Homo sapiens: one gene and its partners. The protein of the gene in region 5 interacts with the protein of the main gene of each other region in a pairwise test. Each region holds a gene or a part of one and is shown on either strand. Other genes may lie near its edges.

Evidence for each region.
Region 1: the proteins of ZHX1 (region 5) and PNP interact in a two-hybrid assay, tested with the Homo sapiens proteins (one large-scale study listed by BioGRID and IntAct).
Region 2: the proteins of ZHX1 (region 5) and LAMA4 interact in a two-hybrid assay, tested with the Homo sapiens proteins (one large-scale study listed by BioGRID and IntAct).
Region 3: the proteins of ZHX1 (region 5) and WDR33 interact in a two-hybrid assay, tested with the Homo sapiens proteins (one large-scale study listed by BioGRID and IntAct).
Region 4: the proteins of ZHX1 (region 5) and LYAR interact in a two-hybrid assay, tested with the Homo sapiens proteins (one large-scale study listed by BioGRID and IntAct).
Region 6: the proteins of ZHX1 (region 5) and SERPINB9 interact in a two-hybrid assay, tested with the Homo sapiens proteins (one large-scale study listed by BioGRID and IntAct).
Region 7: the proteins of ZHX1 (region 5) and PIAS4 interact in a two-hybrid assay, tested with the Homo sapiens proteins (one large-scale study listed by BioGRID and IntAct).

The regions. Positions count from the first base shown.
Region 1 is NC_000014.9:20,472,406-20,475,639, forward strand, and holds part of PNP (purine nucleoside phosphorylase), read left to right. Parts: coding exon 1-72; intron 73-2,066; coding exon 2,067-2,170; intron 2,171-2,367; coding exon 2,368-2,543; intron 2,544-2,656; coding exon 2,657-2,847; intron 2,848-3,234. UniProt on the Homo sapiens protein: Catalyzes the phosphorolytic breakdown of the N-glycosidic bond in the beta-(deoxy)ribonucleoside molecules, with the formation of the corresponding free purine bases and pentose-1-phosphate.
Region 2 is NC_000006.12:112,247,921-112,252,062, reverse strand, and holds part of LAMA4 (laminin subunit alpha-4 isoform 1 precursor), read left to right. Parts: intron 1-4,142. UniProt on the Homo sapiens protein: Binding to cells via a high affinity receptor, laminin is thought to mediate the attachment, migration and organization of cells into tissues during embryonic development by interacting with other extracellular matrix components.
Region 3 is NC_000002.12:127,720,134-127,724,275, reverse strand, and holds part of WDR33 (pre-mRNA 3' end processing protein WDR33), read left to right. Parts: intron 1-928; coding exon 929-1,023; intron 1,024-1,231; coding exon 1,232-1,318; intron 1,319-1,545; coding exon 1,546-1,685; intron 1,686-2,287; coding exon 2,288-2,440; intron 2,441-3,922; coding exon 3,923-4,142. UniProt on the Homo sapiens protein: Essential for both cleavage and polyadenylation of pre-mRNA 3' ends.
Region 4 is NC_000004.12:4,276,184-4,280,325, reverse strand, and holds part of LYAR (cell growth-regulating nucleolar protein), read left to right. Parts: intron 1-576; coding exon 577-684; intron 685-795; coding exon 796-879; intron 880-4,142. UniProt on the Homo sapiens protein: Plays a role in the maintenance of the appropriate processing of 47S/45S pre-rRNA to 32S/30S pre-rRNAs and their subsequent processing to produce 18S and 28S rRNAs. Also acts at the level of transcription regulation.
Region 5 is NC_000008.11:123,263,905-123,268,046, reverse strand, and holds part of ZHX1 (zinc fingers and homeoboxes protein 1), read left to right. Parts: intron 1-660; 5' UTR 661-753; coding exon of another isoform or gene 754-774; intron 775-1,301; exon of another isoform or gene 1,302-1,405; intron 1,406-4,142. Other genes in the region: ZHX1-C8orf76 (zinc fingers and homeoboxes protein 1), read left to right, coding at 754-774. UniProt on the Homo sapiens protein: Acts as a transcriptional repressor. Increases DNMT3B-mediated repressive transcriptional activity when DNMT3B is tethered to DNA. May link molecule between DNMT3B and other co-repressor proteins.
Region 6 is NC_000006.12:2,892,998-2,897,139, reverse strand, and holds part of SERPINB9 (serpin B9), read left to right. Parts: intron 1-949; coding exon 950-1,087; intron 1,088-1,631; coding exon 1,632-1,749; intron 1,750-3,586; coding exon 3,587-3,729; intron 3,730-4,142. UniProt on the Homo sapiens protein: Granzyme B inhibitor.
Region 7 is NC_000019.10:4,027,715-4,031,856, forward strand, and holds part of PIAS4 (E3 SUMO-protein ligase PIAS4), read left to right. Parts: intron 1-431; coding exon 432-473; exon of another isoform or gene 474-475; coding exon of another isoform or gene 476-483; intron 484-795; coding exon 796-886; intron 887-1,005; coding exon 1,006-1,134; intron 1,135-1,216; coding exon 1,217-1,322; intron 1,323-4,142.

The DNA of each region.
Region 1 (3,234 bases), on a different chromosome or scaffold from region 5:
GTCTGACTGATAAATTAACTCAGGCCCAGATCTTTGACTACGGTGAAATCCCCAACTTTCCCCGAAGTACAGGTACTGGCAAGGGAAAGTGGGGAATGGGACTGAGGGATGTTCTTGGAATTCTGTGGAACACAACCAAGGAGGCCAATGTTTCTACTCCTTGACCTAGCATTTCACTGAAGACAAATGTTGTAAGAGAGGAGAAAAGCCCACCATGAGTCAGAGTGACTTTAGGAGATGCCTCTAGCAGACATCCCATAAGAGACAGGACATGTGTGTGTCAGTGGACTGAGGCTAAGACTCAGAAGAGGGCCAGGTGACAGGGGCCAAGTAAAGGGCAAGGGTTGTTTATTTGGTTTACGTAATTTCTCAAATAACTAACTTCTGTTGGTTTATTTATTAATTTTTAAGATTTCTATCTTCTTTTCCCTGGAGAGTTAAGAATTTTTTTTTAAGACCTGTCAGCAGGAAAAGACCTTTAATAGCTATTTTTTTAAACTCTTTAACACAAGACTGGAAGAGCAGAGGGAGAAGGTGAGGGAAATATTAACAGAGGGTGTGTGAAGGGCATACTTCTCTAAGGGAGATAGTAGTGACGCTGGCTCCACTGGCCACTCCTACCCCCAGTGAGAAGGGCACTGCATTAAATGATAAGTGGGTTAGTTTTTTTAAGCTTATCAACATGTTTATTTTTTATACTCCACTTGGGTTTCCTTTGTCAACTTTATTACTGTTTTTGTTTTGTTTTTTTGCATAAGCTCCTCTATCTTTGAGAATTTCTCAGCTCTTCCTCTTGGTTCTAGTCCCTCTCCCATTCCCTAAGGGATAGGTTGGCCGTCTATTAGAAGTGACTGCCAGATAAAAGAAATGGTAATAATGGCTGTTATGTCTGTGGGGAGTTATCTTTGCACTCCCACGCACCCCTCCGTGGGCATGTGTTCCCATAGGACTGTTCCGTGGGTCATAAGGAAAGAGACACTTGCATGCGTTCAAATTCTTTCCCCCTTGTTCAGTAGCCTCTTCTTTAAGAAGCCAGAGTAAGTATACTATGAGCTTGCTTGCTGGACTGAGGAGGCAGGTAATTAAGTTAGGGCAATAGATAAGAATACATGTTTTGAGAACTTTGAAAAATTTGAAGAGGTCTATAATTACTGCATTCACTGTACTCACTTTATTTTGAAACAGAGTCTCGCTCTGTCACCCAGGCTCGAGTGTAGTGTTGTGATCTCGGCTCACTGCAACCTCCACCTCCCAAGTTCAAGAGATTCTCCCACCTCAGCCTCCCGAGTAGCTGGGATTACAGGCATGTGCCACCACACCTGGCTAATTTTTGTATTTTTAGTAGAGATGAGGTTTCACCATGTTGGCCAGGGTGGTCTTGAACTCCTGGCCTGTTGATCCGCCTGTCTTGGGCTCCCGAAGTGCTGGGACTACAGGTGTGAGACACCGCACCTGGCCTATTTTTAATTTTAATTTTTATAGATTTACAGGGGTACAATGCAGTTTTGTTATATGGATATACTGCGTGGTGGTGACGTCTGTGCTTTAGTGTAACCATCACCTGAGCAGTGAACATTGTACTTATTAGGTAATTTCTCATCCCTCATCCCCATCCCACTTTCTCACCTTTCCGAGTCCCCAGTGTCTATTATTTCACTCTGTAGGTCCATATGTACACATTTGGTTCCCACTTATAAGTGAGAACATGTAGTATTTAATCTTCCATTTCTGAGTATCTACTTTTTTTGCTCACTTTTTACTCTCTGGCAGTATGGCTTGTATTATCTTGAAATTTCTTTAAAAAGCCCTTCCTTCTTTGTGTGTTCATGCTGAACATGCTGAACGCACCCCATATCTCTAATCTTGGGTTGTATTTGTATAATTATTAGTAATGCCTGGCTCTCTCACCAGACTTAAACTTTCTGAAAGCAGAGATAATAATGAGTCTTTTACTTAATTACAACCTAACATTTTGAGCAGAGCGAGTAACTCACAGTAGGTGCTTAATGGATATGTGTTGCATGAAAATATAATCCCATTCATTTCTCTTTCTGTTTTGTATACAGTGCCAGGTCATGCTGGCCGACTGGTGTTTGGGTTCCTGAATGGCAGGGCCTGTGTGATGATGCAGGGCAGGTTCCACATGTATGAAGGGTACCCACTCTGGAAGGTAAGTCAGAGGGATAGGTCCGGTTGGATCTGGAAGAGGCAGGAGAGAACTATCTAGCCTCTTTCACTACCTAGCTATCTGGGCTAGGTGGATTTTTGGTCCTCTCCTTCCTTTTCTTTCACGATGTATGTCATGCATTTCAGTGTAGCTGAATTAATGAAATTTTGTAAATTTTTTTCGGATTGTTTGCTTCGAAGGTGACATTCCCAGTGAGGGTTTTCCACCTTCTGGGTGTGGACACCCTGGTAGTCACCAATGCAGCAGGAGGGCTGAACCCCAAGTTTGAGGTTGGAGATATCATGCTGATCCGTGACCATATCAACCTACCTGGTTTCAGTGGTCAGAACCCTCTCAGAGGGCCCAATGATGAAAGGTATGTATGTTACTCCGTTTTTTTTAGGTGGGTAGGATTTAAAGACTTCTCTAGGAGCTGTGGGAGAATTTTTAAAATTCCGTTTATGTGAGATAATTCAACCTGTGTCCTAGGTTTGGAGATCGTTTCCCTGCCATGTCTGATGCCTACGACCGGACTATGAGGCAGAGGGCTCTCAGTACCTGGAAACAAATGGGGGAGCAACGTGAGCTACAGGAAGGCACCTATGTGATGGTGGCAGGCCCCAGCTTTGAGACTGTGGCAGAATGTCGTGTGCTGCAGAAGCTGGGAGCAGACGCTGTTGGTGAGAAGGGGAATTTGGCTGGAAGCTTGAAGAGGGAGGGGTTTAGCAAAATGGGAAGGGGAAGGAGTAGGAAATAACAGGCCTCATTGGACTGAGAGGATCTGATTTCAGGGAAGGGTGAATTAAACTGACTTATTGAAATACAAACTGGTGAGATTTGGTGTAGCATCAAATCTCCCTACGAAGCACCAAGGGGTTAACAGCTGCAGTGCTAATGAATGATCTATCCATGATTTGATGACTGTTTTTTGAGACGGAATGTCGCTGTGTTGCCCAGGCTGGAGTGCAGTGGCATGATCTCGGCTCACTGCAACCTCCGCCTCCCGGGTTCAAGCAATTCTCATGCCTCAGCCTTCCGAGTAGCTGGGATTACAGACGTGTGCCACC
Region 2 (4,142 bases), on a different chromosome or scaffold from region 5:
AAATGTGGATGATGATCAGATTAAAAGAAACCCTTATTTGAGAATATTCCTTAGAACCTTATGTTTATGGTTTTCTTTTACTTAATATTATTATATCTGTTTATCTATATTCTTCCAGCTGGAAAAAAAATGTCACGTAGTGAATTAAATTTGTAGTAATGTCAGAGTCTAATAGGTTCAGAATGCCAGTGGAGGCCTTCAGTTTTGAAAAACAGAAAGAAGATATTAGTCATTCCAGGAAGGTCAAAGTATATGGTGTAGAAAGGGTGAGATTGAGGTAATTATGTTCCCACTGCATAGTTTCACATAATGCCTCCAGTTAGCCTGCGGTCCCATGGCGATCCCAACGCCCCACCATCAGGTTTCCCATGCTCTTTATAGCAGTAACCAGACCTTAAACCAAATACATTCCGGAGACTTAATAACATGGTACAAACACTTTACTGGGTTGGCTCAGGAGACTGTATTTGTGTATATGTGGAGAGAGAAAGAGAACACGGACACATTATTCATGGGAGAGGTTCAATGTGTGGATGGGAAGATATTCTAAAAATACATTCTCTTTACTTGGATTTATATGAATGGTTATTCTGCAATTCTCCTTCAGAGGGAATGAAGAAAAATATTAAGGCAAGCATGGAGCAGTGGGAGGTGCTTGGCTGAAGGCCTTCCTGAGGTTCTCCTAAGCTCTTCAATAGCCCAGCTTGTGGACTCTCCATCCCTGAGTACTTGGCCCAAGACACAAACTCTGGCATGCTGTATTGCTCCATGTGAGCTGGGGAACAAATACATGAAATATGCACGGAATAAAAGGATAGAGATTGTTGGCTGACCAAAAAGGAAGTCTCCTCTTTTCCTTGTAAAACAAGCCAAAGCTTCCCCCCAGATGCAAAGTATTTGAAAAGAAGAGCACCTGTGGGTAACTCCGTACTAGTTGTGGGGAGGATTTTCCCACCTTTGCTTCTTGACACTTAATCTACTGAGTCCTTTATTGCTGAGTTTATGGTGAGAACAGTGATTCTCAACAGGTGATTCTCAAAAGGGAAGACTGGGCAGTTTCAATAATGATAATCAGTATTCTAATATTTCACATTAAGGAAAAGAAAGTCTATTCATTCCACCACACACACTATAGCAGGAAAAACTAGGCCAAACTCTTCTTGACCAATATAGATATGGTAGATATGGAAAAGAACTGGTGTGGGGGCAGGAATGAAGATGGGAACACCCCCACAAGAAGCCAGTAACAGAATGTCCTTAGGAAGAATGAGATTCTTGTCCATCAAAAAGAAGTAGGAACTAAACAAGGTCAAGAACATGAGGTTGGAGGTTACATTGTGTGGCTGGAAAGAAGCCACACAGAGACTGAGAAACTGAGAAGGCAAGGACTCTTCTGACAGGGCAAGGTGGAAGGTGGTGGAGGAGGTGACGGTGCTATTACTGGCTTTCACAGATAAATGATAGAATAAGGGATACAATTGACAACATTGAGTTGTCAATGAGTTGCCCCTCAGAGGGGAAAAGAGGAATTTCTCTCCTAGAAACCTCAGTTTTGCTATTGTTGTCATTATTGTTGTGTTAACTTCACTCCAAGAAGATCAGTGCCCATGAACATACCTTACACTGGAAAAACTGACTTGCTAAAAAGAAACTCTATAAAGCAGACTAACTCTGAGGGACTTTTCCTCTTGACTTTTTTCCTTGTTGATACGTGACCCCATGTCCCAGCACATTGTTAGGGTCCTGCCATTAAAAGATTGCAGAATGTTTAATAAAAACATTTTAGATCTCTTTAACCATCTGCTTTCTTTTTTCTTATCTTGGTCACTTGCTTTGAAAAAGGTCCCTTGAGATCACACTAAGACCTCCAGTTGCTAGCCTGGGTTATCACTCTACATTGCTGTTCCAACAATTCAATTAGGTAATCTGAACCCCTTACATGCAGTCATTATTTCATTCATTTATTCACCCAACAAGCTGGTTTGGAGCCTTACCTCGAAAGAGCAATAAAATAGGTACAAGGAGCAATAGAAAGAAGGTATAGTCTCATCTTTGCCCTCAGGGGTGAGCAATTGAAGAGAGAAAAAAAATAAGTGGCCATTATATACAGAACAATGTACTAACATTCTATAAGAGTGGCTACAAGGTAAGTGCCATGGAGGTAATGTGAAAAAAGTATTATTCCTGTGCTAGACCAGTAGGGCACAAAACTTACTTGCCAAACACCAAAATAGGCTTCAAAAACCTTATTTTAGAAGAACTGGAATATAGCAGTGGTGGTAATAGCAATAATAGTATGGCTCATAGCTGATACTCGTTGAGTACTTACCACATGCCGATACTGATGTAAACACTTCCCATGAGTAATTTCCAGTAACTTTCATGACAAATCAATGTGACTGGTATCGTTATTATCTCATTTGATACACATAGAAACCGAGGCACAGAGCATTTGCCCAGGCCCCTGCTTGTAAGCAGCACAGCTAGGAAGGAGTTTATAAAAGCAGTTCAACTGTGCAAAAGTAGCTAGGAAGAGGTGATTAGGTAAATAGAAATATATATAGGAATACTTCTAGTCAAAGTTTTGGGAATTCCTTTTTTTTTTTTTTTTTTTTTTTTTTGAAACAGAGTCTTGCTCTATTGCCTGTCTGGAGTGCAGTGGCTTGATCTCAGCTCACTGCAACCCCTGCCTCCTGAGTTAAAGCGATTCCCCTGCCTCAGCCTCCCAAGTAGCTGGGATTACAGGCACATGCCACAACGCCCAACTAATTTTTCGTATTTTAGTAGAGACAGGGTTTCACCATGTTGGCCAAGATAGTCTCTATCACCTGACCTTATGATCCACCCGCCTCGGCCTCCCAAAGTGCTGGGATTACAGGCGTGAGCCACCGCACCCTGCTGGGAATTTCTTTAAATGAAGAAATATAAAATGCAATTTAAAGACCATTTTTGCAGTGCTTGTTAGATGAGTAGCATAAGTTACAAAAAGTTGAGATAACTTCCCTTCTCCGTCTAGCCTAATGACTACTTTTTAAAACTACTCACGTAAGAAAGAAAAAAACTAATACTTGTTGACTTCTACTATGTCCCATCAACCTCCATGAATTGTCTTAATACTAAATAGTGAAAATTATACCCATTTTACAGATGAGTTCATTGACATTTAAGAGTGGTAATTACCTTAACCAAATTTTCATATTCCTTTCTCTGCTTTCTGTATACCAGGGAGTCTTCCTGATAGAGCACTTTTTTTTTCAACTATAGAGTCTCCTTATCCTATTTTCTCTTTATAATGATATTCTAGGGTGTGTCCTCCACGTGATGCTACAGTCTATCTTAAAAGCTGTTGATTTAGATTAATAAGTAGGAAATTCATAACAGTATTACCTATGGAATACCTGGTCTATGTTATGGAATTTATTATAACATTGCTAAAAAGTAAAGAATTCCATTCCCTAGTGTTCCAGGGTTCTCTGATTTAACCAGAGGAAGTCTTTTCTTTTAACATGATAAAATAAAAATAACAGAAACTTTGCCATTTGAACTTTTTTTTTTTTTTTTTTTGAGACAGAGTCTCCCTCTGTCACCCAGGCTGGAGTACAGTGGTGCTATCTTGGCTCGCTGCAACCTCTGCCTCCCGGGTTCAAGCAATTCTCCTGCATCAGCCTCCCGAGTAGCTGGGACTACAAGCGTGTGCCACCATGCCTGGCTAATTTTTTGTATTTTTAGTAGAGACGGGTTTCACCGTGTTAGCCAGGATGGTCTCAATCTCCTGACCTTGTGATCTGCCTGCCTCGGCCTCCCAAAGTGCTGGGATTACAGGCATGAGCCACTGCACCTGGCCATTTGAACTATTTTTAAGGGCACAGTTCAGTGGCATTGACTATATTCACATTGTTATAAAACCATCACCATCAATCTCCAGAACTTTTTCATTTTCCCAAACTGAAACCCATTAAATGATAACTTCCGATTAACTCCTTCCTCCAGCCCCTGGCAACAACAATTCTACTTTGTCTCTATGAATTTAACTACTCTAAATACTCCATATACATAATCATGCAGTACTTATCCTTTTGTGCCTAGCTTATTTCATTTGGCATAATGTCTTTGAGGCTCACCCATGTTGTAGCATGTGTCAG
Region 3 (4,142 bases), on a different chromosome or scaffold from region 5:
TATGTGTTTATTTTTATTGGTTGATTGATATAGTAATTTATATTCCAACTTATTCTTGGGAATATTTTTGTAGTGGTTTACAAATACTTATATTGCAATAAAGAGATTGGGTATTGAATATGGTTTTGGCTATTCAAATTTTGTTTTGCCTTCTGACTTAAAACAGAAGTTTTCCACTTTTATTTATTTATTTATTTATTTATTTGAGACAGGGTCTCTGTCCAGGCTGGCGTGCAATGGTGCGGTCTCAGCTCACTATAGCCTCAACCTTCCTGGGCTCAGGTGATCCTCCTACCTCAGCCTCCTGAGTAGCTGAGACTATAGGAGCACACCACCACACCTGGCTAATTTTTGCATTTTTTGTAGAGATGGGGTTTCACCATGTTGCCCAGGCTGATGTCAAACTCCTGGGCTTAGGCAATCCTCCTGCCTCAGCCTCCCAAGGTGCTGGGATTACAGGCATGAGCCACCTTGCCCGGCCCCACATTTTATTTTTATTTTTATTATTATTTTAAGAGACAGAGTCTCACTCTGTCACCGAGACTAGAGTTCTGTGGTGAGATCACAGCTCACTGTAGCCTCAAACTCCTGGGCTCAAGCCATCTTCCCGCCTTATCCTCGTGAGTAGCTGAGACTACAGGTGTGTGCCACCACACCCAGCTAACTTTTTAATTTTTATTTTGTAGAGACAGGGTTTCGCTATGTTGCCCAGGCTGGTCTTGGACTCCTGGACTTAATCCTCCTGCCACAGCCTCCCAAAGTGCTGGGATTACAGATGTGAGCCAAAGTGTATGACCTCACATTTTAAATTTGTAGAAGAAACAAATTGTAAAAATGTGTTGTGTTTACCAAGGGTCTGCCTAGTACTGTTTAGTGCCCAAAAAAATAGTGAAGCCATGCTTCTTTTCTCCTTTAATTATTTTTACAGCAAATTCTGGACTCGAAACCGACCAGGTGATAAAATGCGAGATCGATATAATCTAAACCTTTTACCTGGAATGTCTGAAGATGGAGTAGAATATGGTGAGACTCTTGCACATCTGTCCTTCTTTGAAATCTGGTATTCTATTACAGAAGTGTTAGATGTTGGGAAGATTATACAAAATGAATTTTAATTTTATAGTAGATTTATTTATAAATCATCAGTGACATTCATTTTTATAAAGCATTAATTTTATCAGTCGCTACTTTTGTAAATTCTCTATTGACAATGGTGTATTACTATTTATAGATGACCTCGAACCTAATAGCCTGGCAGTAATTCCAGGAATGGGAATACCAGAACAACTAAAATTAGCTATGGAACAAGAACAGATGGGTAAGAGAAGTTACACAGACACATTTAATTTTTACAAATTTTTTCTTGACCCGTTTATGTTCCTGATAAATATATTGAAATACCAAAATGATTTATGTTGAGAAATGTTGATAAAAATTATATAAATGACATAATACTTAAAATCTATTCTTCCAATAATGTGTTCATTGATCAAGTGGCCAATTTCTTTTATTTAAGAGGCAAACCACTTTTCTTTACGGTTACAGGGAAAGATGAATCAAATGAAATTGAAATGACAATTCCAGGTTTAGATTGGGGAATGGAGGAAGTGATGCAAAAGGATCAGAAAAAAGTACCTCAGAAGAAAGTTCCTTATGCAAAACCCATTCCTGCTCAGTTCCAGCAGGTAAGTAAAAGTGACTCCACCTCATCCACGCAGAGAGGTTTTGGTTGGTTAGTTTGAGGTTTCTCTTGGATTATCTCACTGTTGAAGGTGTTTCTGTACTGGAGCATTTTTCCCATGTTCACGTACTCTTAGACATGGTTCTCATCTACTGCTTTGCAGTTGTATTGAGTTTGTTATCAGTCTTCTCTGTTCTGTCCTCACCTGCTTATTATCATCCATGCTATGAGAGGAAATAGAAGAAAGAGGCATGGAGCAGAGGGAGTATGGGAGTATGTTGCTTCTCTTCTCCATTGTTTATCTATCTTGTGCTTTAATTGTCCCCTCAACACAAAGTGCATGTACCCTGTGAAGAGGCTGGCAAGCTTTGCATTCTTAATAACATGCAGTGTCTTGCAGCTTTTATCACCATAGTAATTTCTACCTAGTAATATGTCAGTAAGAATTAGCATGAGTCATGTACTTGAGTCATGGAGAAAAGGTAAAAAGAAATAAAATCGGTTCAGAGGTTAGATTGAGCAGATGACATTGTAGAGTGGTTTTCTCATTCTATCATTGTAATTTTCATACTTAGCGTACATTTTAATATTCTCTTCTTTCCCAAGGCTTGGATGCAAAATAAAGTTCCAATTCCTGCTCCAAATGAGGTGCTGAATGACAGAAAAGAAGACATTAAATTGGAAGAGAAGAAAAAAACACAAGCAGAAATTGAGCAAGAAATGGCTACATTACAATATACTAACCCACAACTTCTGGAGGTGTGTGAAGCTCTGTAGGGGGGAATTCAAGATGATCTAAGAGGGTAGTGGTGACATTTTTATTGATAGGCTCTTAAGGAAAAGGGAAGGGGCTCTCCCATGGTCTGACAAACACCGCCATTTCCTGTTGCTATGCTAGAAGACTAGTTTCCAAAAGAATCCTGTTTCTTAAAATTTTTTAAAATGTGTTATTTATGTATTTTGTTTTATTTATTTTATTTTAGAGACAGAGTCATGCCCTGTCACCCAGGCTGGAATGCAGTGGTGCGATCACGGCTTGCTACAACCTCTGCCTCCCAGGCTCAAGTGATCTTCCCACATTAAGCCTCTTGAGTGGCAGAGACCACAGGCATGCACCATCACGTCTGACTAATTTTTTTTTAAGTGACTTCCTTGAGTCATATCTTGGACTTTTAAAACCCAATTAGGGTCAGGCGTGGTGGCTTACACCTGTAATCCCAGCACTTTGGGAGGCCGAGGCAGACAGATCACCTGAGATCAGGAGTTTGAGACCAGCATGGTCAACATGGTGAAACCCCACCTCTACTGAAAATACAAAAATTAGCTGGGCATGGTGGTGCATGCCTGTGGTCCCAGTGACATGGGCGGCTGAGGCAGGAAAATGGCTTGAACTCCAGAGGCAGAAGTTTCAGTGAGCCGAGATCGTACCACTGCACTCCAGCCTGTGCCACAAAGTGAGACTCTGTCTCAAAAACAACAACAACAACATAAAAAAACTGAATTAGTGGGGCAGTGAGTAGATCTAAGTTAAATATACATTTTTAATAGAAAAGATAAAGCCAACATAGTTTTAATTTGAATTCACCTGTTTATGAAAGAGTTTTTCCTTTTTGTCTGCTCATATAGCAGGTAGCTTGTTCTTATTTTTCTTATCTATGTTAGCTACCAAGAATGATGAATTAGTGGTGAATTATTGGGCTTTCCCTGATCAAGATGGACAAAAATAATCCTGACTAGGCCAGGCACAGTGGCTCACGCCTGTAATCCCAGCACTTTGGGAGGCGAGGCGGGAGGATCAGCTGAACCCAGGAGTTTGAGATCAGCCTGGGCAATATAGCAAGACCCTGTCTCTACAAATAATAATTAGCTGGGTGTGGTGGCATGTGCCTGTAGTCCCAGCTACTCCGGAGGCCGAGGTGGGAGGATCACTTGAGCCCAGGAGGGTGAGGCTGTAGTGAACCACGATCGTACCACTGCATTCCAGCTTGGGGGACAGAAAAAAAAAATAAGGAAAAAAAAATCCTTACTACTGTGTCCCAGGACTTAAAAAGAATGAGAAAGAACCTAAAACTCCTTACAGTGCTTGAGTGTTGCATGGACTCTAATTACCACTGGAGCGTGAAGAGTTTGAGCAGTTTTTATGTTTGAGAGTCCCCTAACAGAATACATGATAGCAATATTGTCATCTTCAAGGGCTCTGGCCTGTTTATTCAACATGCTTTTTTCTTTCTTTCTTTCCAGCAACTTAAAATTGAAAGACTTGCACAGAAACAAGTTGAGCAAATTCAGCCTCCTCCCTCATCTGGCACCCCTCTCCTCGGACCCCAGCCTTTTCCAGGACAAGGTCCAATGTCTCAGATTCCTCAAGGTTTTCAACAGCCCCATCCATCTCAGCAGATGCCAATGAACATGGCTCAAATGGGGCCTCCAGGTCCACAGGGACAGTTTAGGCCTCCTGGAC
Region 4 (4,142 bases), on a different chromosome or scaffold from region 5:
TAACAACTTTAAGTCTCCCAGTCCATGAGTACGGAATGTTTTTCATTTATTTGTGTCTACTTTAATTTCTTTCAGCAGTGTTTTTTGGTTTTCAGTAAACAAGTCTTTTGCCTCTTCAGTTAAGTTTATTCCTGATTATTCTTTTTGATGCTGTTGCAAATGGAATTGTTTTCTTAATTTCTCTTTCTGGTTGTTATATAAAATGCAACTTGATTTTTGAATGTGGATTTTGTATCCTGCAACTTTGCTGGATTTGTTTATTCTAACAATTTTTGTGTGGACTCTTTAGGACTTTTGACATATAAGACCACATCATCTGTGAACAGAGATAATTTTACTTCATCCTTTGCAGTTAGGATGCCTTTTATTTTGTTTTCTTGCCTAACTGCTCTGGCTAGGACTCCAGTACTATGTTAATAGAAGTTAACCTATATATTTTTAAGCATAGACATAAATACAGAATCTGGGCTTAAAACGTGAACGCTTTAGCCATGGCAAGGACTTTTTCAATTGGCTTTCATGAAACTCATGTTGGTTGTTTATTAATAGTTTTTCTTTTTTCTTCCCTTTTTGTAGAAAATTAGTGAATTAATAAAGAGACCCAATGTCAGCCCCAAAGTGAGAGAACTTTTAGAGCAAATTAGTGCTTTTGACAACGTTCCCAGGAAAAAGGCAAAATTTCAGGTATGAATTGACTTTCTTGAATGGAGGGGGCCGTGTGGCCCATCAGTGACTGAGCTTGTGTGTACCTGTCCAAGTGGGATCAATAGTTCTTTTTCTTTTTCTTTCTTACAGAATTGGATGAAGAACAGTTTAAAAGTTCATAATGAATCCATTCTGGACCAGGTGTGGAATATCTTTTCTGAAGCTTCCAACAGCGTAAGTCAGATCTGATTTTAGATTTGCATTGTGGCAAAAATAATTAGTAATAATGAAATGGGAATTTCTTATTTTTGGAAGTCAAGGCAGCCTTCTTTTTTATTTTTATTTTTTTGAGATGGAGTCTTACTCTGTTGCCCAGGCTGCAGTGCAGTGGTGCGATCGTGGCTCACTGCAACTTCTGCCTCTGGGTTCAAGCAATTCTCGTGTCTCAGCCTCCCAAGTAGCTGGGACTGTAGGCACGAGCCATCATGCCCAGCTAATTTTTTGTATTTTTTTTTTTTAGCAGAGACAGAGTTTCACCATGTTAAGCAGGCTGGTCTCGAATTCCTGACCTCAGGTGACCTGCCTGCGTTGGCCTCCCAAAGTGCTGGAATTACAGGCATGAGCCTCCGCACCTGGCCCAGCCTTCTTTTTTAGAGAACCTCTTAGTGCCTTCATTTATGGAAAGGAAGAAACTGAATGCACTGCAGAGACTTCCTTATTGTGAAGAGCAAGATGTTTCATCCCAATGTTTGATGCTGGTGCCAGCCCAGTATGTAATGATTTGCTTAGTAATCAGGCAGGGAGATAGATACATGGGAAAGAAAGAACAGGAGCTTTGGATTTCTGACAGACCTGGTTCAAATCCCTGCTGTGCAGTTTGCCTGACGTTTGATCTTAGGCACATTATTTAGCCTCTGAGCCTCAGTTTCCTTATCTAAAAAAAATGTGGATAGTAATATTCATTCATTTATTTAATACTTAACTGAGTGTCTGATCTGTGCCAGGACCTGAACAAAAAAATCTAAAGTATCCCAGGTGGTGGTGCATGAGGGAAAATAAAACAGGGTGAGGACGTAGTGACTAGGTGTTCCTCTGGATAAGGGGTGAGGGGGTCACAGCAGCCTCTGAAGGTTACGGTTAAGGTAGATGAGCAGTGTGCTTGAAGCGCCTTCCTTCTGGTAGAAGGAGAATTCCCTTCAAGTAATTAAATCAGCCACCTGTTAGTCAAAATGGTTGAATAGAGACCCTAAATGTGGACTATATATGTAGAAAATCTTGGTTTGCTATCTTTCAGCCACATTGTTGATTACATTGTTTATTTTTGTGTAAATATCAGTTTCAAAAAACAGTGGGGTCAGAACCCCACTGGTCTTTCATTCTTATCAAATTATCGGGAGTTGATTCACTTATGTAGAGAGAATACTTTCGGCAACAAGTGGGCATCAAGATGAAAATTTATCTCGGTAGTACACCTAGCGTTTGTCTCTTTCAGAAGGTACAAATTGGCCCTTTGAAACCGTATAACCGATCATTAGATTGGCCTTTATGTGGCATCTATTTTTTAAGGTTATTTCTGTTTTAACTAAGAATCAAAGATTTGAAATTGCTTCAACTGCAGGGTTTTAGAAAGTTTTTTCCAGTTTCCCTTTTGAAGTGTGAACATATTAAACATTAAATAAAATAAGGAGTAAACAGCCCCTGGTAAACCCTGAGCTCTGCGAAACGCAGCTTGTCATCCCTTACCTCTGCCTTTGCACCACGGCCCTCCCAGCATACCCTGTGTTTGTAGTGCAGAGCAGAGGGTCCTGAGGCCTTGTCCTCCGTACCTTGGTTGTTTATCCTCCTGTAACTCTGCCAGATGTCAGGTCGGATGCTTTTCTGTCCTCTACCCCATCACAGTTCACCTGATCACTGTGGATGCAACTGTAATTAGGCCAAGGTCCTGGCTGGTTGGAGCTGTGTTCTAGTGGGGGAGATAGGCACCACGTGCGGGTCCATGGTGTAATGTCAGGTCCTGATCAGCACTGGGAAGAAGCCAGAGGCATTGGGAGGCCAGGACTGAAGGAGGTGCTCGATTAGGAAAGAGTCAGGGCATCACAGAGGAGACCACATTTGAGGAGAGTGTGTAATGAGGTAAAAAGAAGATGGGGAAGAATTGGTTCACCTATTTATTGAGCAGCTACCAGATGGGTAAATGTGTGCCTCCCTCCCTCTCTCCCTGTGGCCGAGGAGTTGGTTTAGACAAAGAGGCAAGGCACCAGCTGAAAATCTGGTCTGGATTGTGTAGAAGGGATGCCAGGGTCTCAGGCTCTCAGTGGTTAAAATAATATTTTATGGCGGGCACAGTGGCTCATGCCTATAATCCCAGCACTTTGGGAGGCTGAGGCAGGCAGATCAGTTGAGGTCAGGAGTTTGAGACCAGCCTGACCAACATGGTGAAACCCTGTCTTTACTAAAAATACAAAAATTAGCTGGGTGTGGTGGCAGGCGCCTAGAATCCCAGCTACTCGGGAGGTTGAGGCACAAGAATCATTTGAACCTGGGAGGCGGAGGTTGCAGTGAGCTGATATTGTGCCACTGCACTCCAGCCTGGGTGATAGAGCGAGACTCAGTCTCAAAAAATCATAATGATAATAATATTTTACTAGAAGATATCGACAGAATTGTAGGACAGATGTGAAGTTTCTTTGTCCCCTTCTTCCTAAGTCTATTTCTGAAATCCTCCTCTGCCCTTTACCCCATGAGCCTTGACAACCTGATGCTGCTAAGCCACTGCTACTGAGAAAACCAGGTGGTTACATCAGTATCCATTTTCTTTTCTTTTGAGACGGAGTCTCACTCTGTCACCCAGGCTGGAGTACAGTGGCACGATCTTGGCTCACAGCAACCTCTGCCTCCTGGGTTCAAGTGATTCTCCTGTCCCAGCCCCCCGAGTAGCTAGGATTACAGGCGCTTGCCACCACGCCTGGCTAATTGTTGTATTTTTAGTAGAGACAGGGTTTCACCATGTTGGCCAGGCTGGTCTCAAACTCCTGACCTCAGGTGATCTCCCTACCTCGGCCTCCCAAAGTGCTGGGATTACAAGCATGAGCCACCGCACCCGGCCTACAGTATCCGTTTTCTTTTTTTTTTTTTTTGAGACAGAGTTTCATTCTTGTCACCCAGGCTGGAGTGCAGTGGCGTGATCTTGGCTCACTGCAACCTCCACCTTCCGGGTTCAAGTGATTCTCCTGCCTCAGCCTCCCCAGTATCCATTTTCTAATGCTGCTCTTGTAGCCAAGGATCGAGCCTTAAGGTCTGAGTCCTGAGTCCTTGCACTCTAGTGAAAGCTTGTCCTTTTTTATTTGGTCCAGTTTTGAGGACATAGTCCTTGCTACCCACAATCTCCCAAAGGAGGAAGACTGTAGGTAACTTACCCTGTCCTTTGGCTAGACTAACAGAGACGGAATTTGAACCCCCGCCTGCAGGTGCATCAGCTCAGTGGTTTCTCACACCTG
Region 5 (4,142 bases):
TGTCTTCATAACCTTTGTATACTTATTTATTTATTTATTTATTTAGAGTCAGAGTTTCGCTCTTGTTGCCCAGACTGGGGTGCAATGGCGCAATCTCGGCTCACTGCAACCTCTGCCTCCCCGGTTCAAGCGATTCTCCTGCCTCAGCTTCCCGAGTAGCTGGGATTACAGGCATGCGCCACCACGCCCAGCTAATTTTGTATTTTTAGTAGAGACGGGGTTTCTCCTTGTTGGTCAGACTGGTCTCAAACTCCCAACCTCAGGTGATCCGCCGGCCTTGGCCTCCCGAAGTGCTGGGATTACAGGTGTGAGCCACCGCGCCCGGCCGGTATACTCATTTTAAAGAACTCCCAATTTCTGCATCTCAATTTTCACACTAGAGACGGCATATATTCACGTTTTGAAATTTTATTCAAAATGGTCTAATAGTTATTTAGTTGTTCTATATGATATAAATAGAGTTTTTTTAATGTGTAGTTTTTGTGTTTACTACCAATATTAGGATTGGTATTTAAATGGTTCTTTTAAAGTTTTGATGAGGGAATAAACTTTTTTTTTCAAAATTACATTTATTTATTAAAAGCTAAGGCATTAAATTGTAAAAATTTCCTGACTAAGGCTAAATTATATCTAGAATAATAAAATATGACTTTTTTGTAGGAGAAGACAGACTGCTGCTTTGGACCTGTTGGTAATGATGGCCTGAGCTAAACATCTAACTAGAAGGGATACCCTTCCATTTCAAAGAACAGAATGCTAAGGAAGCTGTGGCAAGTATGTGTTTCATTGTTTTGGTATGGTAAAACTCAGATACTGAATGTACTCACTTTAGATCCCATGATACTATATTTGTCTAAAGTTTTTAAAAGCTTTCCTTAAAAAGCAGCAGACATATGCTTAACACTTTTTTTTAATATACTTTCAAATTTTAAGAGCTATAAGTATAGGACTGCTTTAATTTAAAAGGAGACGGCATCATACTTCATAATAAATCTTGTATATTTATAATTGATTTTAAAATTAGTATTTGATAAAATCTGCTGTGTCAGGCACTATACCAAGTGCTGTGATAACAGAGGTAAACAAGACAAAATGTACCTTTGGTATGGGGAAATTGATCTAGAAATTTTGCTATGCTTTTGCCTATATCCAGAAAAATGCTTCAGGATGTACAAGAACAAATTCTGAAACTGTATTTTCAAAACGTAGGCTACTAATAATAGTTAATTATAAGAGTCAGGATATTAATTAAATACTCTTACTTATATTAACCATACCAAAACTTAAATATTTGAATATTGATCCTTTTGTAGTTCTTAAGTGTGATGATTGGGTTTTCATGCTTATGTGTGAAATGTGCCTTTCTCAAACCTTGTTATGACACTGGCACATTACCTGTGTGACGTAAAAAATATATATATATTTGAATGTATTTGTACATAATTGTTTTTATATTTTATCTGATTAATTAATTGGCTTTTATAAGAAGCATTTGTCCTATTGTTATTTTAGATGATTCCAGAAAATACTAGGAAAGATTTGATAAACATTAATGTGGCAGTTTTCATTTTTAAAAAATGGATAACAGAGTTCTTATAAGTTGATATTACCAATACTGATTACTATTATCTTTCAAAGTATTTTGAAAAATCAAATCATTATATCCTCAGTGAAGTGGGTAACAGTTACCTTACCATTATAAATAGGGAAGATAATGACCAGATGAATGGTTTTTCAGTCTTCAAAGGTAATCTCACTTGGAACTGAGAATAGCATTCTTGTGTTAGACTGGCTGTAAAAGACTTAACACACCTTCTTGAGAAAAGTAGGGAAAAATTGTTTTCAGTAGAAAATGACTTTTCGATCACATTCACAAACTCTTCACAAGATAAGAGATTTCATGATACTGCTAGTTTATATATCACTTTCAATGTATTACGTACTTACCTACCTACCTGCCAGCTGTGGGGAGAAAACTAGGATGTTAGTGTCCTAGGGAGAGACCTTTCAAAAAGACATTTCACTCCCGCAAATCTGTGGTCAGAGCTTGCCAGAAAAAAATCTGTCCGATTTGGATTCTTCTTTTAATCTTTAGTGTCATTAAGGTCTGCTTTCTCAGATGGAAAAAAACAGATAGAGAGGATAGGGTTTCTTACCTTTCAGCCTTAATTAGCATTAGCAAAGGTATCCTCTGACATTTGATTATCTTTGACCACAATTTCTTAGATGCTTTCACTTTTATTATTTTTATTCCTGTTTGTATATTCACTTTAATACTTGATTTTCTATTGTCTTGAGACTATTTTTTACAGTTTTCTTGAGACTTATCTCTCAGGTCATGATTGTAGGTTACCAGCAATCTTTAAAAACATTTGCTGTGGATGTAAATTTGTGTTGTCAAATTCCTAATTTAATTTTTTAAGAACTTGATGTTTCTAAATGTTTTAACATTTTATTTTTATTTTTACATTTTAACTTTGAAAATACCTTAATTGTATAAAATCACCTTTATTTTTTTTAACACGGTGGATACCTTTTGTTTTAATATGACCTAATTCTTTGTTTGTACTGTTTAGGCATTCCGTGATTTTTGTGGATTTGTAACTTCTAGTTGAATACAAACGTGTTAAAGTATTTTCAGCTGGCTAAACAGAACTCTTGACTCAGAGAGAAGTGAAACTAAATAGAATACAGAGTCCCAAACATTCTCGGTATATATACAAATGCAGATTCCAAGGGATTCTCAGTGTGTATATTTTTGCTACCTAAGAACAGTTTTATTTTTGATGCTACATCAAAATTAACATGATCCCTAAAAACTATAGTATCTTCTAAATGCTCTTTTTTTTTTTTTTTTGAGACAGAGTTGTGCTCTTATCATCCAGGCTGGAGTGCAATGGCGCAATCTCGGCTTACTGCAACCTTCTTCTCCCAGGTTCAAGCGATTCTCCTGCCTCAACCTCCCGAGTAGCTGGAATTATAAGTGCACGCCACGACGCCGGGCTAATTTTTGTATTTTTAGTAGAGACAGGGTTTCACCATGTTGGCCAGGCTGGTCTCAAACTCCTGACCTCAGGTGATCCACCCGCCTCGGCCTCCCAAAGTGCTGGGATTACATGCGTGAGCCACCTCACTCAGCCCTAAATGCTCTTATTTGACCCAGAATTGTTGTAAAAAACAAAGTTTGTGGCCAGGCACAGTGGGTCATGCCTGTAATCCCAGCACTTTGGGAGGCCGAGGCGGGTGGATTATGATGTCAGGAGTTCAAGACCAGCCTGGACAAGATGGTGAAACCCCGTCTCTACTAAAAAAAATACAAAAATTAGCCAGGCGTGGTGGCGGGCGCCTGTAATCCCAACTACTTGGGAGGCTGAGGCAGAGAATTGCTTGAACCTGGGAGGCGGCGGTTGCAGTGAGCCGAGATTGCCCCAGTGCACTCCAGCCTGGGCAACAGAGTGGGACTCCGTCTCAAGAAAAAAAAGTTTGTTTTTATTCATGTAAAATCTTACCAAATAGCATGCTTTTGTGGCTAACCAGGCCAACATATTGTTATCTGTTAATCATTTAATTTGAAGTCCAAACAGCCAGAAAAACCAGAAGCTTGCAAATTCAGTGCAGTTGTGGCTCTGTTTAATTATAAAATATTTTAGACTTTTTTTTAGTAGTGGGTAAGCATAGAATTTGAAACAATCCACTAACTTCTTATAGTGTATTACATTGAGGACTTATTTTTAATCTTTTTTAAAATGTAGTAGAACACTGTTAAAGTATAGTTTTCTCATAAAACAGAGAAGTAATGATTCTAAGTGCAAATTTGCATTTGCTGTCTTTATAATAACTATACCCTTTTCTCCTGAATTTCACTGCCAAAATCATTCTTTGAATGTTTTATCTCCCTTGTTTTACTCTTAATTCACAGATTTAAATATACTCAATTCATATATAAAACTGATGTATTACAATGACATTTTAGATGTTAGTAAATGTTTATTGAATGTTCATTGCTGTACTTTAGTAAATAGAATGTTTTAGATTCAAGGGTGTTTTAATATTCATGACTAAGGTAATTTTTATTAAGAATTTTACCATCGAAAGTAATCTATAGTAAATCAAGCACAATTGTTTTTATAGCTCTTCTATAA
Region 6 (4,142 bases), on a different chromosome or scaffold from region 5:
TTTTTTTTTTTTTTTTGACATGGTCTTGCTCTGTCTCCTAGGCTGGAGTGCAGCAGCTTGATCATAGCTCACTGCAGCCTCAAAGTCCTGGGCTCCAGCAATCCTCCCATCTCAGCCTTCCAAGTAGCTGGGACCACAGGCACACACCATCATGCCCAGCTAAGTGGAGATGGGATCTTGCAATGTTGCCCAGGCTAGCCTCAAACTCTTGGGCTCAAACAATCCTCCTGCCTTGGCCTCCAAAAGTGCTGGGATTATAGGCATGAGCCACTGTGCCTGGCCTAGAAAAGTATTTTAATTTTTACTTTGAAGAGTTAATTATTTAGAAAAGTGTTTTCAGTAATATTTTGTAGGTGATTTTCATTTTGTTGGCATTTTATTTATAATGCTGATTTTTTGTTACTACATTGAAGTTAGAGAATATGATCTATATAATTCTGTATTTCAGAATGTATTGGGATGTTGAGACTTTTCTTATGGCCCAATATGTGTGATATATTTTGAAATATTTAATATACACACATGTAGTCCCTATAGGGTACAATTTTAATAACTGTGTTATTGTCTTATTAATCACATTGCTCATGTAATATCCTTGTTTCCTTTTGAGGATTCTGATGATTGTATTTCCGTCTATTTTTCCATGCATTTTTTCTGCTTTTAACTTTTTAACTGCATCTTTTTTTTTCACTATAAATTTTAGAGGTAATTTTCCCACCACTTAGGGTACATTTATATTTTCCTTTTGATGCAAGATTTTATCACAACCTCTTTTCTGAGCTTTTCTCACCCTTGTCATTTTTTGTGTGTTACTGATCTTTAAACAAGCGAGATCCATTCAGGCAGAATGGCTACATCTTTTACTCGCCTGTTTTCTGTCCCCTCTCTCTCCTCTCCCCAGCCATCAAAGAGCTATCTTGATAACTTTTAAAATTATCTTTCACAACAGGCACTGTCTTTAAACACAGAGGAAGACATTCATCGGGCTTTCCAGTCGCTTCTCACTGAAGTGAACAAGGCTGGCACACAGTACCTGCTGAGAACGGCCAACAGGCTCTTTGGAGAGAAAACTTGTCAGTTCCTCTCAGTAAGTTGAATCAATAGAACAATAAAAGTTGCATTCAACATACCTGGTGATATAGAGTCTGGGAGAAAGACCCTAGAGAAATTGAGAAATTTATGTTAACCAATTTAAAAAAATTGCACTATTTTTTTTTCTAAGATGGGGTCTCACTACGTTGCCCAGGCTGGTCTTAAACTCCTGGTCTCAAGTGATCCTCCTGCCTGTTGGGATTACAGATGTGAGCCACCACGCCCAGCCTAAACTTCTTTTTTTTTTTAAAGACTGCAATTCTATAATTATACCTTGCATTAGTATTGCAAAAGTAGTCTCTACTTTTCTTGAAAGGTAAAATTGAAAGGTAAAATTCTCAAGTTCATTTCTGGTTATTCAGGGTTCAATACATACCTATTCACAAACTCTGATATTTTAACATATCTTCATATGATCACTTTTAAAGAGTTATGTATATTCTTTTTATTAAAAAAAGATAACATATTTAGAATTTTTGGAAGTTTGCTGACATTTGTATTTAGCAATGCAGCCTCACTGAACATTTTTCTCTCCAAAGACGTTTAAGGAATCCTGTCTTCAATTCTACCATGCTGAGCTGAAGGAGCTTTCCTTTATCAGAGCTGCAGAAGAGTCCAGGAAACACATCAACACCTGGGTCTCAAAAAAGACCGAAGGTCAGAATGACAAGTTATTGCACCTTCCTCCCAACCCGTCCTCCTCCTGCGGCTCTTCCTATTCCTCCTTCCCGCCTCTTATATCCTCTCTCCTCCTCCTCTCCCTCCTATCCCTCCTCCCTCTCCTCACCCACCTCCACCTCTCCACTCCGCCCCCTCTAATTTCACGGGTGTTTCAGATGGTCAGAGTAGTGTTGACTGGCAGGGCCTCCTGGCATACTGAACCTTGATGGACTCATAAAGGTTCTGATCAGACATTCAGGTTTTCAGCAACAGAGATTTACTTTTGTCTATTCTCCCAGGACCAGAGTAGCTGATACAAATGTCAAAAGAGGGCCAGCCACGGTGGCTCTCGCCTGTAATCCCAGCAATTTAGAAGGCCGAAGTGGACATATCACTTGAGGTCAGGAGTTCGAGACCAGCCTGACCAACATGGTGGGACCCCCCCCCGCCCAACATCTCTACTAAAAATACAAAAATTAGCCAGGTGTGGTGGCCCATGCCTGTAATCCCAGCTGCTTGGGAGGCTGAGACATGAGAATCACTTGAACCTGGGAGGCAGAAGTTGTAGTGAGCTGAGATCATGCCACTGAACTCCAGCCTGTCTCAAAAACAAAAAACAAACAAAAAAACAAATGTCAAAAGAATCTCAGGCCAGGTTTCCAGTTTAATAACTTGCATTAAAATATACTCTCCCTGGCCTGTAACATTCACATGTCAGGTGACTCCATTGTCTCTGCGAGAAGGAGATTGGTGGACAGATCTTGCCTGAGGTATACACTTGGGCTGCCTCTTCCTAGGTTCTGGGGGACCTCCATCACCATTACCTTTACCTGCTAAGGTCACTCCTGACTTTTCATGTCTTCCACTTAAGCTCCTTTAGTTTGACTTGATAAGCCTACATTTGATTGGTTAACTGCCGACCCTCTCTCAGGGCTGATCAGTTCCACAGACTGAAAATACCCTCCATTTGGGGTTGAACCTTATTCATCTACATTTCAGAAAGTGACGTGTTCCAGTCTAGGCCTCCAAGACCAATGATGGTCTGATGAACCATTCAGACTCCTCTGCGCCAATTATGCTTAGTACCACCAGGAACATTTCCATTTCTGTGAATAAATGAGACGGTAAAGAATGGGAGACGTTCTTCGCTTAAAGTCTCAGCAGTTGTTTCCCGCATTCCTGCTTGGAGTATTTACCACGGATGCTCTCTTCAGGCAGTGGGTTAGCAGGGATGCCCTCAGTTCATTGAAACAGTACCACTTGATCTCCAGGGAAAGAAGGGGTGATCTTTGTTTGCCCACATCCTCTTTTCCAGGGATGCCTAGTGCTTTGTTGAGGGGATTCAGCAGGAATATCTCCTCCAAAAGCTTCTGGAAACTCCCCATGTGCCCAATGTCAGCTCTTCCCGCTTTGAGCCGTCCATTCTGGTTGCTTCTGACATGTCCATGTATAGTCACAGAATGTTAGAACTGGGTGTGATCATGAAGGGTTGGATCAAACACTCCAATTAACCATGTGAGACAAACACCCCTTCAGCCTATCACATTTCCTGCTGGTCTTGTTCTCCAACCTGGTGTAATTTTTCTACTTTGTACCAACCTGCTTTCCTCGAGTGACTTAGGTATCTTTCACCATCCTCAACTTGGTGGATGTTCTCAAGGTGTCAGTAATCATGAATACCACTCATATGTGCTGTTTTTATTTCTCTACATAACAACCCAAACTCAGCAAAGTTGAAAACAGAAGTTTGCTTCTCAACTAATGATCCAGGATCATCCAATGCATCAGGTTCTTATAAAAAGCAACTGAATGTAGTCTCTACTTTTCTTGAAAGGTAAAATTGAAGAGTTGTTGCCGGGTAGCTCAATTGATGCAGAAACCAGGCTGGTTCTTGTCAATGCCATCTACTTCAAAGGAAAGTGGAATGAACCGTTTGACGAAACATACACAAGGGAAATGCCCTTTAAAATAAACCAGGTGGGGGAAGCTTTTTAAAATCCTGCTAGTTTGATGAAGAAGTTGAATGGAAAGATTTAACTTTGTAAAAGTGTAAGTGACATAAGCGTAAGCCAAAAGGAATTTGAAACTTAAAGTATTTCTGAATGAATTTCTTAACTCAGTAGAAAAAAACGGAAGGAGTAAAAGATATTTGCTGCATATATATATTATATATACGTATATATAATATATATATATATATGTAGTGTTTTATCACTGCTCTTAACTGCCTTTGATAATTTCTCATAAACCATTGCTGCCACCTAGTTTTGGAAACTAAAGATCTTCCTATAAGCCCAATTTACTTGGCTAGAAAGCAAAAAAAAAAAAAAAAAAGTGTTAAGGTAGTGTGATATGTGGGAGTGAGAGGCAGTATAGGGCAGGGTAGAGGG
Region 7 (4,142 bases), on a different chromosome or scaffold from region 5:
ACGCCTGGGTAATTTTTTGTGGAGACAGTTTCACCATGTTGCGCAGGCTCGTCTCAAATTCCTGGGCTCAAGAGCTCCGCCAGCCTTGACCTCCCAAACTGGGTGTTTTCTTGCCATTGTGAGCCAGCTGCTAGATTCCCGCATGCACGTTTTAGCTATGTTTCTTCGCAGGGAGAGGCACCTGGCTGCCCTCTCTGGTTCAGGGTTTTGCTGTGGATTCTGTTGCATTTTCCAGGGAGGCCAGCCCCTCTCCTGACCTCACAGCCACTCCTCTCACCCAGCCCGTACAAAAGAGTCCTGGGCCTCAGTTTCCCAGCTCTGGGGGAGGGAGCCTTGTGGTGTGGCGGTCTCCACCTTGTCGGGTGGGCTGGGGTCACGCCCTCCTCACTCAGCTCTCCTTTCCTTTCCTCTGGTTTGCTCCACACCCACAGGGAACTGCAGCCCGGAGTTAAAGCCGTGCAGGTCGTCCTGAGGTATGCCCAGGTGTGCCCGCGACCCCAGGGCTGGACCCCCAGCCACCCGCCCCTCCCCGCCCCCCAGTCCTGGCCCAGGCCCTTCTCAGTCTCCCCTGCTAACAGCAGAGCCCAGCTCTCCTCACCTGCTGTCTATCCCTGTCTGGGGATACATCACCATCCGACCCCCACTCAGGCCACACCCGGGGGCCCTGATACCCCCCGTGTCACATTCTCCGGTGCCCCCATCACTGCCGCCTGGCTACCACTCGTGTACCCCCGCAGCAGCCTAGTCCCTCCTGTGCGCCCCCTCCCCGCCCCATGGTCCCTGTTGTCGTTGCAGAATCTGTTACTCAGACACCAGCTGCCCTCAGGAGGACCAGTACCCGCCCAACATCGCTGTGAAGGTCAACCACAGCTACTGCTCCGTCCCGGTGAGCATGCCCCGCCCCCGCGTCGGCTGCACGGGTTTGGGGGGCGTGGAGGGAGGGTGGGGGCCGTCGGATTTCCCAGCCGCTCTTGGCTCGAGGCTGAGCGGCCCATCTGCTTGCAGGGCTACTACCCCTCCAATAAGCCCGGGGTGGAGCCCAAGAGGCCGTGCCGCCCCATCAACCTCACCCACCTCATGTACCTGTCCTCGGCCACCAACCGCATCACTGTCACCTGGGGGAACTACGGCAAGGTGAGTGCGTGCCCGGGTGCCCACCCTGCCCCCCAACCCCGGCCCCGTCCTGCCAGCCCTGACCCCTTCCTTCTGTCCCCAGAGCTACTCGGTGGCCCTGTACCTGGTGCGGCAGCTGACCTCATCGGAGCTGCTGCAGAGGCTGAAGACCATTGGGGTAAAGCACCCGGAGCTGTGCAAGGCACTGGGTGAGCAGCTCAGGCCACCTCGGCCGAGGGGTGCCAAGTCCACCCTGGAAACCCGCCCTGTGCTGGGTGAAGCGGGGGGCCCTGCACCCGGAGGAGATCGATCAGGGGCCGCCTGTCACTCTGGGGGTCCATGGCCCCCCGGCTGTGGCTGGGGAGGTCTCTGGAGGATACGGATGGCAGAGGGGGCACTTGGCAGTGGGAGCTGCTGTGCGGAGGCCTGTGGGGTCACACCTCGTGTTGCTGGCCCCAGGTGCTCCAGCCCACAGGGGTCTAAGCAGCAGAAGAGCTGGAGCCTCATTCCGGGACAGCACAGAGGCCGGGAGGGGTGAGAGGAGCACAGAGGGAGCTGTGGTCTAAGCAGCCCCTTCTCGTTGCCTCAGCGGGGCCGAGGGTGCTGCGGGACCTGGCGGGTCACGGACGGCCAGGGTCGTGGAGGCAGTTGCTGTGGGAGGAAGACGGGCGGCGGCGGTCTGACCTCACGTTGGTGAGGCCCCGTTTAATCTTTTTTCTTTTTCTTTTTCTTTTTTTTTTAGAGAGTCAGGGTCTCTGGGAGGTAGAGGTTGCAGTGAGCTGAGACTGCATCGCTGCACTCCAGCCTGGGCTGCAGAGCGAGACTCCACCTCAAAAAAAAAAGTGTCTCGGTGTATCGCCCAGGCTACAGTGCAGTGGTGGGATCGTGGCTCACTGTAGCCTCTAACTCGGGCTCAAGCCATCCTCCTGCCTCAGCCTCCTGAGTAGCTTGGGACCACATGTGTTCACCACCACACCCAACTAATTTTTTTTTTTTTTTTTTTTTTTTTTTTTGAGACAGAGTCTCACTCTGTTGCCCAGGCTGGAGTGCAATGGCACGATCTCGGCTCACTGAAACCTCTACCTCCTGGGTTCAAGCGATTCTTCTGCCTCAGCCTCCTGAGTAGCTGGGACTACAGGCATGTGCCACCATGCCCGGCTAATTTTTTGTATTTTCAGTAGAGACGGGGTTTCACCTTGTTAGCCAGGATGGTCTTAAGCTCCTGACCTCGTGATCCGCTTGCCTCGGCCTCCCAAAGTGCTGGGATTACAGGCGTGAGCCACCACGCCCGGCCCCAACTAATTTTTTAATGTTTCGTAGAGATGGAATCTTGCTGTGTTGCCCAGGCTGGTCGTAAACTCCTGAGCTCAAGCAGTGCACCTGCCTCAATCTCCCAAAGTGCTGGGATTACAGTCTTGGCCACTTTCGCACCTGGTCTCTTTTGTCCTTGTAACAATGAAAACAATTTTTTTTAAGTGACACGCAGAGCAATTTTAAAAGAAAGCCTGCCGGCAAGGCGCAGTGGCTCACACCTGTAATCCCAGCACTTTGGGAGGCCGAGGCGGGCAGATCATGGGGTCAGGAGAGCAACACCATCCTGGCTAATATGGTGAAACCCCATCTCTACTAAAAATACAAAAAATTAGCCAGGCGTGGTGGCAGGCACCTGTAGTCCCAGCTACTCGGGAGGCTGAGGCAGGAGAATGGCGTGAACCCAGGAGGCAGAGCTTGCAGTGAGCGGAGATCGTGCCACTGCACTCCAGCCTGGGTGAGAGTGTGAGACTCCATCTCAAAAAAAAAAAAAAGCCTGCCAAGCCTGGTAGGCAAATCAGTCCTCACCCCAAGCAGCCACGCAGCACAAAGCCAGCGTACAGCAGTTAGCCCTGCCTGGCGGCTGTGTGGCCTCAGAAAGTCGCTGGCCTTCTCTGGTGGCCACTGTCTTCAGGAGAATAGATCTGAGCCATCTTGAGGGCACCTGGACATCTCTCTGGACCCCACATGCTTGGGGCCCAGGCCTCAGTGGGCTCTGCAGGCCTGTCTTATGGAGAGGCTAGGCCTAACCTGGAGTCATTTGGAGCTGGGAGTGGGAGTCAGGCAGGTGGGTGAGGACTGGGACCACCTGCCAGGCTGACGAGAGGGCGGTTCTGGGCCAGCCGGGTTTGCTCGCACCCCCTTCCCGAATGGTGGCTGTTTTCAGGTGGAATCTGGGCACCACCCCAGCCCCTTGGCAGAATGTGGGCCAGAGGGTCTTCCAGCTGCCCCTCCTAGCTGCCCAGGCCCCTGTGCCCAGGCCAGAGAGTTCCCCATGAGCACTGCCCTCCTGGCACAGCCAGGCCCAGGCCTCTGGTCCCTGTTCCTGACCACCAAAGGGCACCTCCTTGCCTGGGTGTCCAGAAGCCTGGAGCAGTGCTGGCACTGCCAGGGGCCTGCGAGCCCCATCGTGTTGAAGCCTCCTGTGCACTCCAGCCCCCCAAGTCAGGAAAGATAGCCGGCAGCACCCCCTCTGCAGAGCAGGACGTGGAGGGTGAGGGGTCCCTCCACGGAGTCCGGCATCCTTGGCCAGCCTCCTCCAGGCTCGGGGATGGAGGGCCTGGCTATGTACCCGTGTGACCAGTGGGGACACTGAGGCACAGAGTGGCAAAGTTAGGGTTCTGTGTCCTGGGTTACCCCGCCCCACCTCCCTCTTCCCTCAAAGGGCCCTTTTTTCAACCGCCCCCGACCTTCCCTGCCTGTGGGGACATGGCCAACTTGAGGGAGGAGGCTGGGGCCGGGCAGGCCTCTTCTAGGCCCACGGGGTGGGGGCCGGGCTTAACTCCTCAGTGACCAGAGCCCGCAGTGCTGGGGGCTGTGGGGTCAGGCTTCCTCTCCGAAGGGGTCTCCTGCTGCTTCCCACAGCCGGCCCCAGGCTCAGCCTCTCTGTCACTGGATTTCTTTCTTGCTGCACCTAGGAAGTCCTCACCTTTGCCTCACTTGAACCCTTCCTGCTGCGCACGTCTCTCCATACACAAAGGAGGGAGAGTTTGCTTTAA